Regions from separate parts of the Homo sapiens genome. Here all the other regions are linked to region 2. Evidence: fine-mapped expression QTL. A gene starts in region 2. Each other region holds a variant in brackets. All regions are shown on one strand. Distances are from middle to middle.

Evidence for each region. PIP is the estimated chance that this variant, and not a neighbour inherited with it, causes the effect.
Region 1: its variant is the best candidate, but not a certain one, in a credible set for the expression of C19orf18 in sun-exposed skin (GTEx, PIP 0.88).
Region 3: its variant is the best candidate, but not a certain one, in a credible set for the expression of C19orf18 in substantia nigra (GTEx, PIP 0.65).

What each region holds. Positions count from the first base shown.
Region 1 is chr19:57,993,854-57,999,196 of GRCh38, reverse strand. All of the region lies in intron 4 of ZNF606 (zinc finger protein 606), which reads left to right. Among named protein-coding and RNA genes, the nearest start is that of ZNF606, 6.3 kb to the left of the region's middle. The variant T/C (reference allele first, on the strand shown) is at 2,283.
Region 2 is chr19:57,972,518-57,977,860 of GRCh38, reverse strand. C19orf18 (chromosome 19 open reading frame 18) reads left to right here and starts at 3,327. Exons shown (of 6, transcript NM_152474.5): 1 at 3,327-3,549; 2 at 3,658-3,762. The coding sequence starts at 3,429. ZNF606 (zinc finger protein 606) reads left to right here. Exons shown (of 7, transcript NM_001348022.3): 7 at 1-785.
Region 3 is chr19:57,891,852-57,897,194 of GRCh38, reverse strand. It overlaps a transcript of ZNF814 not described here. Among named protein-coding and RNA genes, the nearest start is that of ZNF814, 5.5 kb to the right of the region's middle. The variant G/A (reference allele first, on the strand shown) is at 2,493.

The sequences.
Region 1 (5,343 bases), 21 kb before region 2:
AAGAATGCATCAGCCAGTTGGGCACAGCCTGGTGAGTGGGGGTCTGGCCTCCTGCAGCACCACAGGGGTCAGGGGTGGCAGGCAGCACACTGTGTGACCAGTGTTTGAGTGAGACTGACTCCAGTTAGATTTTAGGCTGGAGAGGCCAGGCCCTGAATGCTTGCTGCAGAACCTCAGAAGTCTTGGGATCAGGCGGCACCAGGGTCCAAAATGTGGTGATGGGTGTGGAAAGAAGAGGGCTGTGGGAAGCAGGCTGGTGTTTCAGGCTTCAGTCTGACCAGGGCCTTGGAGCTATGGAGGAGAGGTATAAGGAAATCAAAGCAGGGGCCTTTGTGATTATGGGGACAGGGTGGCTCCTGAGAGAAATAGGACAATGGAGTTACTTAGGAAAGGTGTCATCTCTCTGCCGTCCTCCTGCCCAGCCTCCTCACCAGATGCAGCCACTTAAAAAAATTTTTATAATAGCTTTATTGAGATGGTACTGACATATTATAAAGTTTATCCTTTTAAAGTGTGTAATTCAGTGGTTTCTCGTATAGTCACAGAATTGTGCAACAATCACCAGTATCTAATTCTAGAACATTTTCATCACCCTAAAAAGAAATCCTGTACCCATTAGTAGTCACTCCCTGTTTCCCCTACTCCCTCCCAACCACTAGTGTACTTTCTGTCTCTATGAATTTGCCTAGTCTGGACATTTCATAAAAATGGAATCATAATATGGCACAGCCTTTTTTGTCTGGCTTTTTTCACTTAGCATAATGTTTGCCTTCTCAAGAGTTACCCATATTGTAGCATTGTGTCAATATTTCTTTTAATGTAATGTAATTACAATGTAAATGTAATAAGTGTAATTACAATGTAATTACATTGTAAAAAATGACTGAGGCAGCCATTTTTAACTTCCTGTTTTCAGTTTTTTAGAGTTGTCTCTGTATTTCTAAATGGGAGATTTTTTAAATTGGTTTTTTCCTAATTCATTAAAGTTATATTTACTCTGTTAACTCCCTGCTATGAAAGATGAAGAAAAAGAGTTTCATTACTTATTTTTAGGTCTTTTATTTTTAAGTTAAGATAATGAATCAAGCAGATGTGAGATACTTGGATATAAAACAAGATTTAAAAATGATGTCTCTACTTTGTGCCTCCCCCTCAAATTAAAAAATATTATTGAAACCGCCCACAGTTTCAAATCTGGTGGGTGAAGTCCATCATAAGTATGCTGTTCCCACTTGGCAGTGTTGCTATCCCTGGTCCAGGTGAGATGGGAAGCAGAAGGGCCTGAACCATATGATGCAAGGTGATTGTTGCCTGGCATCAGAACTTGGGCAACTATGAGGTTTGCTGCTCTTACAATGTACAGTCATTATTAAATCCTAAGACAGAATAATCAGTAGTGAAGCTAGACTAGCCTGAAAGATGGCCCCTGAATCAGACTCTGAGGAGTAGAAGTTAGCTGTAATAAAACACTGCGAAGAAGCCCTGTTAACCACCATGCTACACTCTGCTGTTAATTTATGCTAGGCTTTCTGAGAATTATCTAAGTTAATGCTGAGAAAATAAAACAGAATTAAAAATAACAACACCCTCCAATGTCTGAAGAGTTGTGATTTCTGATAACATGCTCCTGGCTGGCCCCCCTCCCCACACTCTGGATTTTTTCCTGTGGGAAACTCGGATTTGACTGCTGTGTGTTTTTAACTAAGTGAGATCTTCAGGAATGCAAAAGAACCCTGTGTCCCTTTATTGTTCCCTCCAAGTTAAGTATTTATTGAAATAAAGCATTTATCTGGTGAAAACATCAAATGCTGTCATCCCTCATTATCTGAATAGTCCATTCATGGAAGTATGTTGAATAGTGAGGTTTTAACTACAGAAGCCCAGATCCCGTTATTTCTAGGAATAGGGGAAAATAATAATTGTAATGATAATATCTCATTTCATCTAAAAAACCCCAACCAGCCTTTCCAAATACGGAAGCATTCAAACCCCTCTGTTAACAGTCCACCTAGGATATCTGCATAACAAACATTATGTACATAAAACACCAATAATAGTCTGCACCCATGCTTGGTCAGACTTGAGGATGTGCACAATCTATTTATGTTTTCCTTCTCTGCAATGAAATCTACCACAGAAGCCATCTGAATTGCCCCAGGTTCCTTGAAGGGGGAGCAGTTGGGCAAGATCTGTCAGCAAACATCTGAGACCCAGCTCAGCACCTTTGGTCTCTCCTTCAGACTCTCAAAGGGTTTAAATGTGTGGCTGGTTTGTTAGCAGAT[T/C]CCATGAAGTGCTTAGAATGCCTAGATAAATGCTTATATGTGTGTACAAAGTGATGTGTGCAAGAATGTTTATGAGAATTTGGGTGAAACACTTTTGCAAGTCATCCTAGGATGTGATTGGAAAATACAAATGCAGCTCATGAGGGTGACCTGTGGACCAGAAGGGTTTGCTCCTCCCTGTAGCAGTACTCTTCTCTCTTTAGCACCCTTTCCCCTTAGCATCAGGCAACAGTGAAACCTGCATTTCCTCTCCTACCCTTGAAGGGTCCCTCTCATCTCCACAGCCTGTGAGACTAGGTTCCTGTCTTCCACCATCTCTTCCTTCTGGCCTTTTGGTTTTGCATTTTCCTTTGCAATTCTAGGCTGAAGGTGTTTACTGTGTCCCCTTACCAGCCATTTATTTATTTTTATTTTTGAGGCAGAGTCTCATTGCGTTGTCCATACTGGAGTGCAGTGGGACGATCTTGGCTTGATGCAGCCTCCCCTCCCGGGTTCAAGGGATTCTCATGCCTCAACCTCCCGAGTAGCTGAGATTACAGGTGTGTGCCACCACACTGGCTAATTTTTGTATTTTTAATCGAGACAGGGTTTCACCATGTTGGTCAGACTGGCCTCAAACTTCTGACCTCAGGTGATTTGCCTGCCTTGCCCTCTCAAAATGCTGGGATTACAGGCGTGAGCCATTGTGCCCAGTCCCCTTACCATCCTTGAGGTGAGGCCTCCATGATTTGTGGGCCCAGACATGGTTACATATTCAGCTGGGGGCAGCTCTTTTTTTCTTCCTGTTTTTTAGCCCATGGGGCTTACAGTTTGAAAATGTCCCCTTTTTCATTTCTAAATTTTTAAAAATTTATTTTAGTTTTAATTTTGGCACATTTCATAATTACAGAGAAGTGTAAAAAGGAAGCAAATGGCATCACCATCAGTGAACAATATTACTGTTTTGTCGTATTTGTTGTTTTTCTTCTTTTACTCTTTGTCTTTCCACCATTTCTCAGGCAACCACTCATGGATTCAGTTTGTACACAGCTAATTCATTTTCATATGCATACATAGATGATAAACTATATAGACATAGACAGTCTTTTTCTTTTTTTTGAGACAGTCACACTGCATTGCCCATACTGGAGTGCAGTGGCATGATCTCAGCTCACTGCAGTCTCCGCCTCCCGGGTTCAAAGGATTCTTGTGCTTCAGCCTCCCAAGTAGCTAGGATTGCAGGCGTGTGCCACCATATCTGGCTAATTTTTGTATTTTTAGTAGAGGTGGGGTTTTGTCATATTGGGCAGGCTAGTCTCAAACTCCTGTCCTCAGTGATCTGCCTGCCTCAAAGTGCTGGGATTATAGGTGTGAGCCACTGCACCCAGCCCAACAATCTATTTTTTTTCCCAATGATTTTTTTCTATATGTAGTTTTCCTATAGTTTTCTTTTTTCAACTTTGAGGTCCATCCATGTTGATAGATACAGAGAAGTCAGGCTTGTTCCTTTTGCGCTGCCGAGTGTATCCATTAGAGAAGTGCACCTCTGTGTTCATAGTTTCTTTTATGGGCAGGTTTATAAGTTCCTCTTTCCCCCATTGTTTTTGCTGCTCCAGTGAAAGCTGTGTGAACATTCCTGTGACTTCACTTTGTGCACGTGTTTATGTAGTTTTTATCTAGGCATACCCCTAGAAGCAGAATTGTACCTGGTTTTAGGTATGTACTTTTTTTTTTTTTTTTTTTTTTGAGTCAGAGTCTCATTCTGTTGCCCAGGCTGCAGTGCAGTGGTGCCATCTCAGCTCACTGCAACCTTGCCTCGCGGGTTCAAGTGATTCTCCTGCCTCAGCCTCCCAAGTAGCTGGGAGTACAGGTGCATGCCACCACGCCCAGCTAATTTTTTTATTTTTAGTAGAGGCAGGGTTTCACCATGTTGGCCAGGATGGTCTCAATGGTCTCCATCTCTTGACCTCGTGATTCACCTGCCTCGGCCTCCCAAAGTGCTGAGATTACAGGCATGAGCCACCATGCCCGGCTAGGTATATACTTTCAGTGTTACTAGTGCTGCCGCATGTCTCTACAAGGGGGCGAAGCTACTTGTCAGTCTCCCCACTCTGGGAGAAAATACCCCTTTTCCTGCATGTTTGTCGACACTTGACATTATCAGGTCTTTTAAATGTTTGCTTACCTCAGGACCAGAAAGGTATATTGCATTCCTTTAATGTGCATCTTCTTGATTGCTAGTGAGCTTAAGTACCTTTTGATGTCTTTATTGGCCATCTGTATTTCCTTCTCTCTTTGTTTCTCTTCCCCCATCCCTAGATTTCTAGGGACTGACTTTAATATAGGTATTTCACATGCATTCTGAATCCTAATTCTTTATCACATATCAACTAACTCCTCCCAGTCTGTAGCTTGTCTTAACTGGTGGTGTCTTATCAGTCAGATATTTGAATGTTGGTATGTTTTTGTCAAATGTGTCTATCTTTGTTTATGGCTAGTGTTTCTGTGTGTCTTATTTTAAGAAGTCTTGTGTTATTTAAAAAGTAATAATTCCCTCTTGTCCTTTTCCTTTAGGTTCTCTTTCTGGGCTCTTCTGTTAGCTGCTGGACCTCCTGAACAAATTGCCGTGTCTCTGATCTCTCTATATTCCATGTCCTTTTCTTGGTGGGGGTTGGGGGCCTGATGATCATGTTCTCACCACAGCAGAACTCTCTAGGGCCTCCTGAACTAGTTGCTGTGTCTTCTGTTCTTTTCTTAGTCTGTGAAGGCTTTCCTATTCTCTCAGCCTCTCTTGTAGCATCCTGTCCCACTTTATACTGAAATCACTCTGGTCTGAGAATCTGAGAATAGGAATTAACAGGTCTTTGAAAGTTGAATGTGGCTGTTGTCTGGATTCTCTGGCCTTGTGGCTACTTAGTTCAGTCGCTTTATCTGTGCATCAGGTGTTTCTCATGTCCAGGAGACGTCTGGTCTGTGTGTGTTTCTCAGGGCAGGGCTGTGAGGCTGGAAGTCCTGTTCTACTTCAGCTGCATAGATCTGATTCATGATTGGTGCCTTCCACTCCGCTCTGTGCTCCTGGTGA
Region 2 (5,343 bases):
GCATAATTGTAGAAATACAGATTTTGTTGTTATAAGGGGAGGGTCTGGGTGCCCAGGAGTAGAATATGAAGTGCTAAATCTGAATGTAAGAAAAATAATAGTATTGAATGGGGTATTTACTGTTGATTAACCTCCTTAGAGAAAATTAATGAATGAGATGACTAACGGTAGAAAAGTTATTGCCTAGGAGTGTGAGACTGATGTTGCTGGACAGAAAGTGATCCTTAGCCCAGTGTGTCAGCGTCCATTGTTACTCATCACTGCATTGTTGGGCAATTAGTTTGTAATTTGTTTTAGGCAATCACTATAAATTATAATTATGGACACTGCATCAGTATACATAACATGAAGGAATAAAAAGGATACAGAATTGTATATACATACTTACTGTAACACATCTAAAAAAATGTATATGGGTAAGGACCTGAAAGATCCATGGAAAAGTTAACCCAGTTGAGATTTTTAAAAAGTTTTACAAATACATATAACACTTATGTGCTGGGCTTTCTTTTAAATGCTTTCCAAGTGTTAACTTGTTTAGTCCCCTTTACTCTGAGATAGGTACTGTTACCCCAGTTTTACAAATGGCTAAGCTGAAGCAGAGATGTTGAAGGATCCTACCTAAGGGGCACAACTAGTAAGGGAGTAGAGCTGAGATTGGCTCCAGAGTTCTTGTTTTCAGCCACCATTTTATGCTGCCTCTCCAGTGATTTTTTTTCCCATTTTCTTCAGTGTTTCTATAGCAGAGATTTGATAATAAAAAGAAAATCCTAAACAATGAGAAATAAAGTTACCTGGTTTCTCTGTCTCGAAGGATTTATAGTAACATGAGAACTAGTATCCCTTTGGAATATGAAGTCTGTGTTGGACATTCAGAATCACTGCATTTTCTGGGACCTGAGTTCCCTAGAACTTTGCTGCCTGCAACCCCAAGGATAACAGGGCAGCAGGGCCTGGAGGACTTGCTGGAGGACTGGGCAAGTCCCTTGGTGGGTTTAGAATGCCACTTACAGAGCAGAGGGCAGGGGTGTTTGTTCCTTTCCATAACTAGACACCACTGCACTTCAGAGCACCATTACCCAAGGTTTACCTTGAATTCGGTCTTTTATTTTTTTGAAATCTTCTGCAGATGAAAGGCTTACTTGAAGGAGCAGGATTCAGAAGGGAAGAGAGCTAGCCAGTCCACCTAGAGTAATGAAGTCTCAGTGTTCACAGGGGAAAAGGGGAAAGATGGATCAGAAGACTTGGGTGGCTTCTCTCCAGTTCATAAGTATTTCTAAAACTGGGGGCCAAGGATCCTTCCTGGATAGGCTTCAAGGGTATTGAGTGGAACTTGGGCTCATAAAGCTCATCTAATTTTTAAAGGGCCCATGGCTTCCCAGTGGTTGAGAAATGATGGCCTAGTGATGTCATTGGGAGGCTGTTATTTTCACCTTCTGACTCTTCTAGCTTGGGCTCACTTAGGTGTGTAACATTTGATTGTAGTCCTTTCAAGGCCTGACACATTAGTGGTCACCTGATAAATGTGGCAGGGGCAAGTTAGTTATTGATGGATTTTTTTTTTACATGATTTGTGCAAAGGCCCTTGGAGAGAATGAAGTTAGCAGTATTATCTCATCTTGGAGAAAGCAGCATAATATATCCAGAATCATACTACCAGTAGGATGTGGATATTGTATTCTAATAGCCAGAGTGAATCCAAATTATCTGATTTAGAGATTCCAAAGGATTTCATAAGTCATATGCAATATACCACAAGCATCCTGGTAACTTATAACCTTATTACTAAGATTATTATCTTGAAAAAATTTCTAGGCCGGGCACCGAGGCTCATGCCAGCATTTTGGGAGGGACAGGAGGATTGCTTGAGCTGAGGAGTTCAAGGCCAGCCTTGCAACGTAGCAAGATCCCATCTCTGTTTAAACAGATAAGAGTTTTTTTAATGTCTTAAAGGGCCTCCTGGCAGGGCACAGTGGCTCACTCCTGTCACCCCAGCACTTTGGGAGGCCAAGGTGGGTGAATCATGAGATCAGGAGTTCGAGACTGGCCTGGCCGCCAACATGGTGAAAGCCCATCTCTACTAAAAATACAAAAATTAGCTGGGTGTGGTGGCAGATGCCTGTAATCCCAGCGGTTCCAGAGGCTGAGGCAGGAGAATCGTTTGAACCCAGGAGGTGGAGGTTGCAGTGAGCCAAGATTGTGCCACTGCACTCCAGTGTGGGTGACAGGGCAAGACTCCATCTCAAAAAAAAAAAAAAAAAAAAAAAAGGGCCTCCTGTTGGTCAGGTCACATCACGAGTCAAAAGAAAGTCCCAGACTTCTGCTTCTTCCTGGAAGTATTCCCTTCCTCTCACCTATCATGCACAGCCTGGACAGTATTGATTTCAGTGGTCCCTAACATCCAGCACTCCCAGGTCCCCTCTGTCTCCCTCATACATGACATAGTTCATTGCCTTTTTTGAGCCCGTCTTCTATTCCTCCCATCTCTGAAGCCTAGGGCCCACTTTCAGTCATCAGGAGTCCCCCTTTACCTTCCTGCTGTGGGTCTCCCCTGTGCACATTGCCTCCCTTCTAAGGGTGACTGCTTTCCTTCCACTTTCTTTTCTTTCTTTCTTTGTGCAGTGGTACGATTTTGGCTCACTGCTACCTCTGCCTTCTGGGCTCAAGTGATCTTCCTGCCTCAGCCTCCCGAGTATCTGGGACTACAGGTACACGCCACCATGCCTGGCTAGTTTTTGTTTTTGTGTTTGTTGTTTTATTTTTTTGAGACAGAGTCTTGCTCTGTCGCCCAGGCTGGAGTGCAGTGGCATGATCTCAGCTCACTGCAACCTCCACCTCCTGGGTTCAAGTGATTCTCATGCCTCAGCCTCCCAAGTAGCTTGAACTACAGGTGTGCACCACCACGCCCAGCAAATTTTTGTATTTTTAGTAGAGATGGGCTTTCACTGTGTTGGCCAGGCTGGTCTTGAACTCCTGGCCTCAAGCGATCTGCCCACCTTGACCTCCTAAAGTGTTGGGATCATAGGCGTGAGCCACCGTGCCCATTCCTTTTTTCCTGAACATTTTCCAAGTGAGGTTGTTGGAAATCACGGATGGGGAACTATGCATGCGGAGGGCTGACTGTAATTGATTTCTTTCTGCCTCCTCACTAATCTGCACACTGCAGGCAGGGACCTGGTCTCATCATGCCTGCACCTCCAAGCACTGCCCTCTTACACTGTAGTCTCCCCATTGGTCAGCATGGTTCCATGAAGGAACTCCATTATCACAGCAAGGACTGACCTCACACTGGTGGCTCCAAGTCACTGCCCAAACATTCTGAAGGGAGTAGAACTTCTTGATTCCTCAGATAAATAGAGGACAGATGCTGGACTGTAGCTAAGTATTTCCTTTCATCTACGGGATAAAATACTGATAATTTGAGAGTGATGGACAAGGTTCAGAGTGGTTTCCTCATTTTGTTTTTGTTTTTAATGGAATGCCAACTTCATTTATGCTTGCCGTATGCAGATGGACTCCATCCCACTGGAAACATAACAGGCTTACCAGGTAGCTTCAACCACTGGTTTTATGTGACTCAGGGAGAATTGAAAAGCTGTTTCAGGGGAGATAAAAAGAAGGTAATTACATTTCACCGCAAAAAGTTTTCTTTTCAAGGCAGTAAACGGTCACAACCACCCAGAAACATCACCAAAGAGCCCAAAGTGTTCTTTCATAAAACCCAGTTGCCTGGGATTCAAGGGGCTGCCTCGAGATCCACGGGTGAGTCATTGAATTCCTCATTCAGTGGAGTGAGAATCGTAGCCTGGAGTCCTCTTATCTGCCATGTGAATGTGTACTGTGTGCTTGCTGGTAGAAAGGTCCATAAAATAGAGTATAATTAGATAAACATTTGCTTGGAAATTAGATCTTATGCTCTTCACTCTCTGTTAACTGCTTTCTCTTTAGGGATTGCCACTTTCTTCTCTTTTTCATTTCACTTTAATAAGCGCACACAAAAACCTTGATCCCATCCAGATTACACAGGTATGCCTGTCTGACTTGAATTTGGTGCACATTTGGCAGTAGAGCATGCAAGTCTAGACACAGAAGGTTTGTGAGTGTACAGAATTCTTTTTTTTCTTTTTTTTTTTTTTGAGACAGAGTCTTGCTCTGTCGCCCAGGCTGGAGTGCAGTGGCGCGATCTCGGCTCACTGCAAGCTCCACCTCCTGGGTTCACACCATTCTCCTGCCTCAGCCTCCCAAGTAGCTGGGACTACAGGCACCCGCCACCACGCCAAGCTAATTTTTTGTATTTTTAGTAGAGACAGGGTTTCACTGTGTTAGCCAGGATGGTCTTGATCTCCTGACCTCATGATCCGCCCGCCTCGGCCTCTCAAAGTGCTGGGATTACAGGCATGAGCCACCATGCCCAGCCGAGAATTCTTTATAAGCATTTTCTATGGTTCCCTTCTAATTTGAGTACTAGAGGATGTTTGTTTATCTTATAACAGCAAAACCAACCCCGACAATCTTTGAAGCTCAGCAACCCTTTGTGGAGATATATGATGCTTGTAAATAATCTCCATTCCATGCAAGGGAAATGCTGTCTGTGTGATACATTTGCATGTAATTTGTGTCCGAGGAAAGGACACTATTGTTGGTTCCCTGGCCTCTCTGCCTGGCTCTCTGATCCTTTTTTTTTTTTTTTTTTTTTTTTTTTTTTTTTTTTTTTTGAGACGGAGTCTCACTCTGTCACCCAGCTGGAGTGCAGTGGCGCAATCTCGGCTCACCACAACCTCCACCGCCGGGTTCAAGCAATTCTCCTGCCTCAGCCTCCTGAGTAGCTGGGACTACAGGCGCGTGCCACCATGCCCAGCTAATTTTTGTATTTTCAGTAGAGACGGGGTTTCACCATGTTGGTCAGGCTGGTCTCGAACTCCTGACCTCGTGATCTGCCTTCCTCGCTGGGATTACAGGCATGAGCCACTGTGCCCAACCCTTGCTGACCTTCTAATGAGGTCGTAGCCCCTTCAACTCTAAGTCTCTCCAGGTCCTTAATTTGGGCAGAGATTTCCCAACTTGTATGACTGCAAAAGGAGACCAGAAACCAAAAGTATCCTGTTCCTAAAGGTCATTCTTCATGACAGGAAGCACCAGGTGCAAAAAGAACAGCAGGCTCACCAGGCTTCTGCAAATTAACCCACACATTGCTGCCAGGCATTGGGAGGAATGTATTAACACATCCCATCTTAGATATTTGGAAGCTGTGTGTTCGGCGTCCTTCTCTAATGCTAAGTTATTTCCTTGTTTTCCCAAGTTCATCTTAAACCATCTTAAAGTCTCTTCTTTTTGATCCCCTTT
Region 3 (5,343 bases), 81 kb after region 2:
TTAGCATTTTCATATGTAAGAAGCTGTATTACAACATCTTGAGCTGTTTTGTCAGTTATGGCCTTATTCACAGCCTCCTGGAGCTGAGCAATAAAATCAGTATATGGTTCTTTAGGTCCTTGTCAGACAGAACTGAAAAAAGGATATTTTTCTCCTGTAACATTTATTCTGTCACATGCCCGTAAGCACACAGTGCATAACTGAACAATGGCAACATTCTCCATTACTGCTTGATTTTCTAATTGACCCCAATTAGGACTGACTCCCTTTAACTGTTGAAAGGAAACAGGCACAGATGGCTGTGCTTGTGTTTTTTCCCTTGCCTGAGTTTGAGCTTCATCAGCCCACCGGGTTTTAAACTGTAAGTACTGAGATAGAGTGAGAACAGATTTTGTTAAAGTATCCCAGTCATATTTTATCAATCTATTATTCAGAGCCACATTTTTTAGTAAAGTTTGTACAAAAGGAGAATTTGGCCCATATTGACTAATGGCTTGCTTAAATTCCATTAATAGCTTAAAAGAAAATGTGGCCCAACTAGCTATATTTTTCCCTCCTTGCTGGGTGATAGTAACAGGAAATTGCCATGCTTCAAGGTCTCCCTCAGCTCTAGCCTTTTGAATAGAATTTTGTATAGCACCACCAATTGCTCCAGATTTTAATGTTGCAACTACAGGAGCAGTAAATTTTACAGCTAATTCATTTTCTCGCCCATTATGGGGAGGGAAAGGAGGTGGCCATTCACTTAATTCAGCAGGTGGAGCTGATGGGTTAGTAAAACATACCCTTTTCAGTTTCCCTTTCTTAATTTCCTCTGGTTTTTGCTCCTCGCATTCAGAATCTGAAGTTAGTTTTTTACACACTTGTCTTCCTCATCTGAATCTGTCTCGTGATCTGTTTGAAATGGCTCAAGAGCAGCCTTTATCAATGCCCACACCAACCAATCAGAAACTGGAATTTTGGCTCCTTCTTTATAAGCCTTTTTAAAATCTCTGCCAATTCTTTTTTTTTTTTTTTTTTTGAGATGGAGTCTCGCTCACAAAAGTGGCTCGCTCAAAGGCTCTCGTGCCCCTTTTTTCAGGTGCGCTCTCATGGCGACTGGCCAAAGAGGCACCCCTCTGTGCAAACGTAAAATTTCTTTGCTAAAAATCGTTTGTTCGAGTGTTCAATTTCCTTAAAATTTTGAGCGTTATTCCTGACACTATGTATAAACAAGTACCTAGGGTGGACGCATTCCTCCTCTGACTTTCGGGAAGAGCCTGCTCTGTCTATGGAGTGGCTATTCTGTCATCACTTTACTCTCTTAACAAATTTACTTTTCTTTGCACTGTGGACTCACCCTGAATTCTTTCTTGTGTGAGATCCAAAGAACCCTCTCTTGGGGTCTGAATTGGGACGCCCTTTCTGGTAACATCTTTCTGGTGAACCTTGAAGGGATGATACTGAAGAAACCCACCGGCCCAAAGGAAATAGGCTGCAGCACTAATTGGCCGACTTTGGGTAAGTGGTGGGGCACCTGGGTAAAGGATGAGATTGGGTTAGAGGCCCAGCTTAGGGAGTTAGAGTCTCTCCTAAGACAGAGAGGGTTAAAGTTTCCTCTCAATAAAAGGCAAGGACGTGGCCAGGTGCGGTGACTCACACCTGTAATTTCAGCACTTTGGGAGGCCGAGGCGGGCGGATTGCCTGAGACCAGGAGTTCGAGACCAGCCTGGCCAACATGGTGAAAACCCATCTCTACTAAAAATACACAAATCAGCCAGGTGTGGTGGCACACACCTGTAATCCCAGCTACTAGGGAGGCTGAGGCAAGAGAATTGCTTCAACCCAGGAGGCAGAGGTTGCAGTGAGCCGAGATCGCACCACTGCACTCCAGCCTGGGCAACAGAGTGAGACTTCATCTCAAAAAAAAAAAAAAGAAAGAAAAGAAAAGAAAAGGCAAGGAGGCTTGACTGACCCTGGGTTTGAGGCCCAATTTAGGAAGGTTAGAGTCCTTCCTAAGATTTAGTCCTTCCTAAGAGTTAGAGGCCCCTCTCAGTAAAGTCCCTCTTGGCTAAGAACTGGTTTGGCACCACAGGATGTCAACTTTGCATTAATCTGTCTTGTCCTCTTTGCTGTATGAATCAATCTCTTGGTTGCTCTGCTTCACTGTCATTTTCAGGGGACTTCATTTAACTTGTCTTAGGGCTTTTATTATACTCTTCCCCTGTGTGCCTTCTGATTTCCATCCATTTGCTTGTGAAACATTGGGAACAAAAAGCATTGAAGGCTCCGTTTCTAAAATTGCGTATTCAGGTTTGGTATTTAACAGCTATGAGCAATAAGATTAGATAGATGTGGCTATGATTTTTTTTTTTTTTTTCTGAGACGGAGTCTCGCTCTGTTGCCCAGGCTAGAGTGCAGTGGTGCAATCTCGGCTCACTGCAAGCTCCACCTCCCAGGTTCATGCCATTCTCCTGCCTCAGCCTCCCAAGTAGCTGGGACTACAGGCACCC[G/A]CCACCACGCCCGGCTAATTTTTTTTTTTGTATTTTTAGTAGAGACGGGGTTTCACCGTGTTAGCCAGGATGGTCTGGATCTCCTGACCTCGTGATCTGCCCGTCTCAGCCTCCCAAAGTGCTGGGATTACAGGTGTGAGCCACTGCACCCAGCCGGCTATGCTTTTTGCAGCTATGCCAACTAGGTGTGATCAAGAAGCACTAGGATACAAATCAGGGGACTTTTCTCCTTGCTGTTTTGTTTCATTTACAGACTAAAAACAAAATGAAACAAAATAAGAAAACCCACTTCTTTTCTTTCTTTGATTTGGGCAAATCGGCTTCTTTTTTTTTTTTTTGAGATGGAGTCTCACTCTGTTGCCAGGCTGGAGTGCAGTGGCATGATCTCAGCTCCCTGCAACCCCCACCTCCTGGGTTCAAGCAATTCTCCAGCCTCAGCCTCCTGAGCAGCTGGGACTACAGCCACCATGTCCAGCTAATTTTTGTATTTTTAGTAGAGACGGGGTTTCACCATGCTGGCCAGGATAGTCTTGAGCTCTTAACCTCGTGATCCCCTCACTTCAGCCCAAAGTGCTGGGGTTACAGGCATGAGCCACTGCACCTGGACTTTTTTTTTTTTCGAGACAGAGTCTCGCTCTGTCACCCAGGCTGGAGTGCAGTGGCACCATCTCAGCTCACTGTAACCTCCACCTCCTGGGTTCAAGTGATTTCCTGCCTCAGCCTCCCGAGAAGCTGGGATTACAGGTGCACACCAACATGCACGACTAATTTTTTTTTTTTTTTGAGATGGGGTCTCTCTCTGCCACCCACGCTGGAGTGCAATGGTGCAATCTCAGCTCACTACAATCTCCACCTCCCAGGTTTAAGTGATTCTCCTGCCTCAGCCTCCCGAGTAGCTGGGATTACATGCATGCACCACCACACCCGGCTTATTTTTTCAATTTTTAGTAGAGACGGGGTTTTACCATGTTGGCCAGGTTGGTCTCGAACTCCTGGCCTCAAGTGATCTGCCCACCTCGGCCTCCCAAAGAGCTGGGATTACAGGCATGAGCCCCCGCACCCGGCCATGACTAATTTTTTGTATTTTTAGTAGAGATGTTGTTTCACCATGTTGGTCAGGCTGTTGTCGAACTCCTGACCTCAGGTGATCCACCTGCCTCTGCCTCCCAAAGTGCTGGGATTACAGGTGTGAGCCACCACACCCAGCCAACTGACTGGTAGGAAATTCTTGCTGGGTGCAGTGGCTCATGCCTGTAATTCCAGCACTTTGGGGGGCCCAGGCGGGCAGATCACCTGAAGTCAAGAGTTGGAGACCAGCCTGGCCAACATGGTGAAACCTTGTCTGTAGTAAAAATACAAAAATTAACTAGGCATGGTGGTGCGTGCCTGTAATCCCACCTACTCAGGAGGCTGAGGCAAGAGAATCGTTTGAACCCAGGAGGCGGAGGTTGCAGTGAGCCGAAATCACACCACTGCACTCCAGCCTGGGCGACAGTGCAAGACTCCGTCTCCAAAAAAAAAAAAAAAAAAAATCAATAACAAAAAAGAAATTCTTACCCTTTTGCTGGCATTCCAGCATTCCAGGCTTCTGGTTTGCCTTTCCCTGAGAGCCTCTAGTGACCCAGCTGGCTGCACCACACCCTTGGGGGCCAATCTGCAATACAAAGCTAAATTATCTTTTTCCATTCTGGCCAGAGCAAAATACGTGTGACAAAACATACACATTAGCCACTCGGCTCCGCCTGGAATATCTAACAGGCAAGGCTCAAACTTGCCCTGGTTGGGCCCCATCATCTTTAATCCAACCTCCGACCATGAGTTTCAACTTGGTCTCTGGGCAAGATGGTCACCCTGAATAACAGAAAAGATAAGAAAGGGAAAGGAGACAGAGAAAAACATTGCCTGTGGCAGGGTGGGGAAGGCCAGGAGCTTAGAGAGGCCAGAGAAGCCCCCCCCACTCCCATTGCAGTGACACTGAAAAGTTCAGGTGGCTGCTTGTCAGTAGCAAGGGGATCTTTTCCAGCAGTCCCATCAGCTCGCAAGTTTTCCCTTTTGGGGAGGAAAAAGCTCCCCATGTCCCATGATCCTGTACATTCCTAGTCCTGTCACCCATAGCCATCAGCAAGGCAGATTATTCCAAAGAGAACAGCAGTTAACAGCCCATTGTGCCAAACCCATTCCTAGCCAAGAGGGACTTTACTGAGAGGGGCCTCTAACCCCCTAACTCTTAGGAAGTAATCTAATCTTCCTAATTTGGGCATTGAACCAAAGTTTGGTCAAGTGTCCTTGCCTTTTATTGAGAGGAGCCTTTAACCAGGAGAGACTCTAACTCCACCAAGTTGGGCCTGTAAACCAATCTCATTCTTTATCTGGGTATATGCACCCCACTCACTCAAAGTGAGCCAAGTGGTGCACACAGATGATTTTCCTCTGGGTTGGGGGTTTCTTCAGTGTCAATGAAAAGAGTCAAACTCTGTAGACTATGTGAAGAGATTTATTCTGAGCCAAATATGAGTGACCATGGCCTGTGACACAGCCCTCAAGAGGTCCTGAGAACATGTGCCCAGGGTGGTCAGGGCGCAGCTTGGTTTTATACATTTTAAGGAGGCAAGAGACATCAATCAAATACATTAAAGAAATACATTGGTCTGGGCCGGGTGCAGTGGCTCACGCCTGTAATCCCAACACTTTGGGAGGCTGAGGTGGGCAGATCACAAGGTTGGGAGCTTGAAACCAGCCTGGCCAACATAGTGAAACCGTGTTTATACTAAAAATACAAAAGTTAGCCGGGCATAGTGGTGCGCACCTGTAGTCCCAGGTACTCAGGATGCTGAGGCAGAAGAATTGCTCG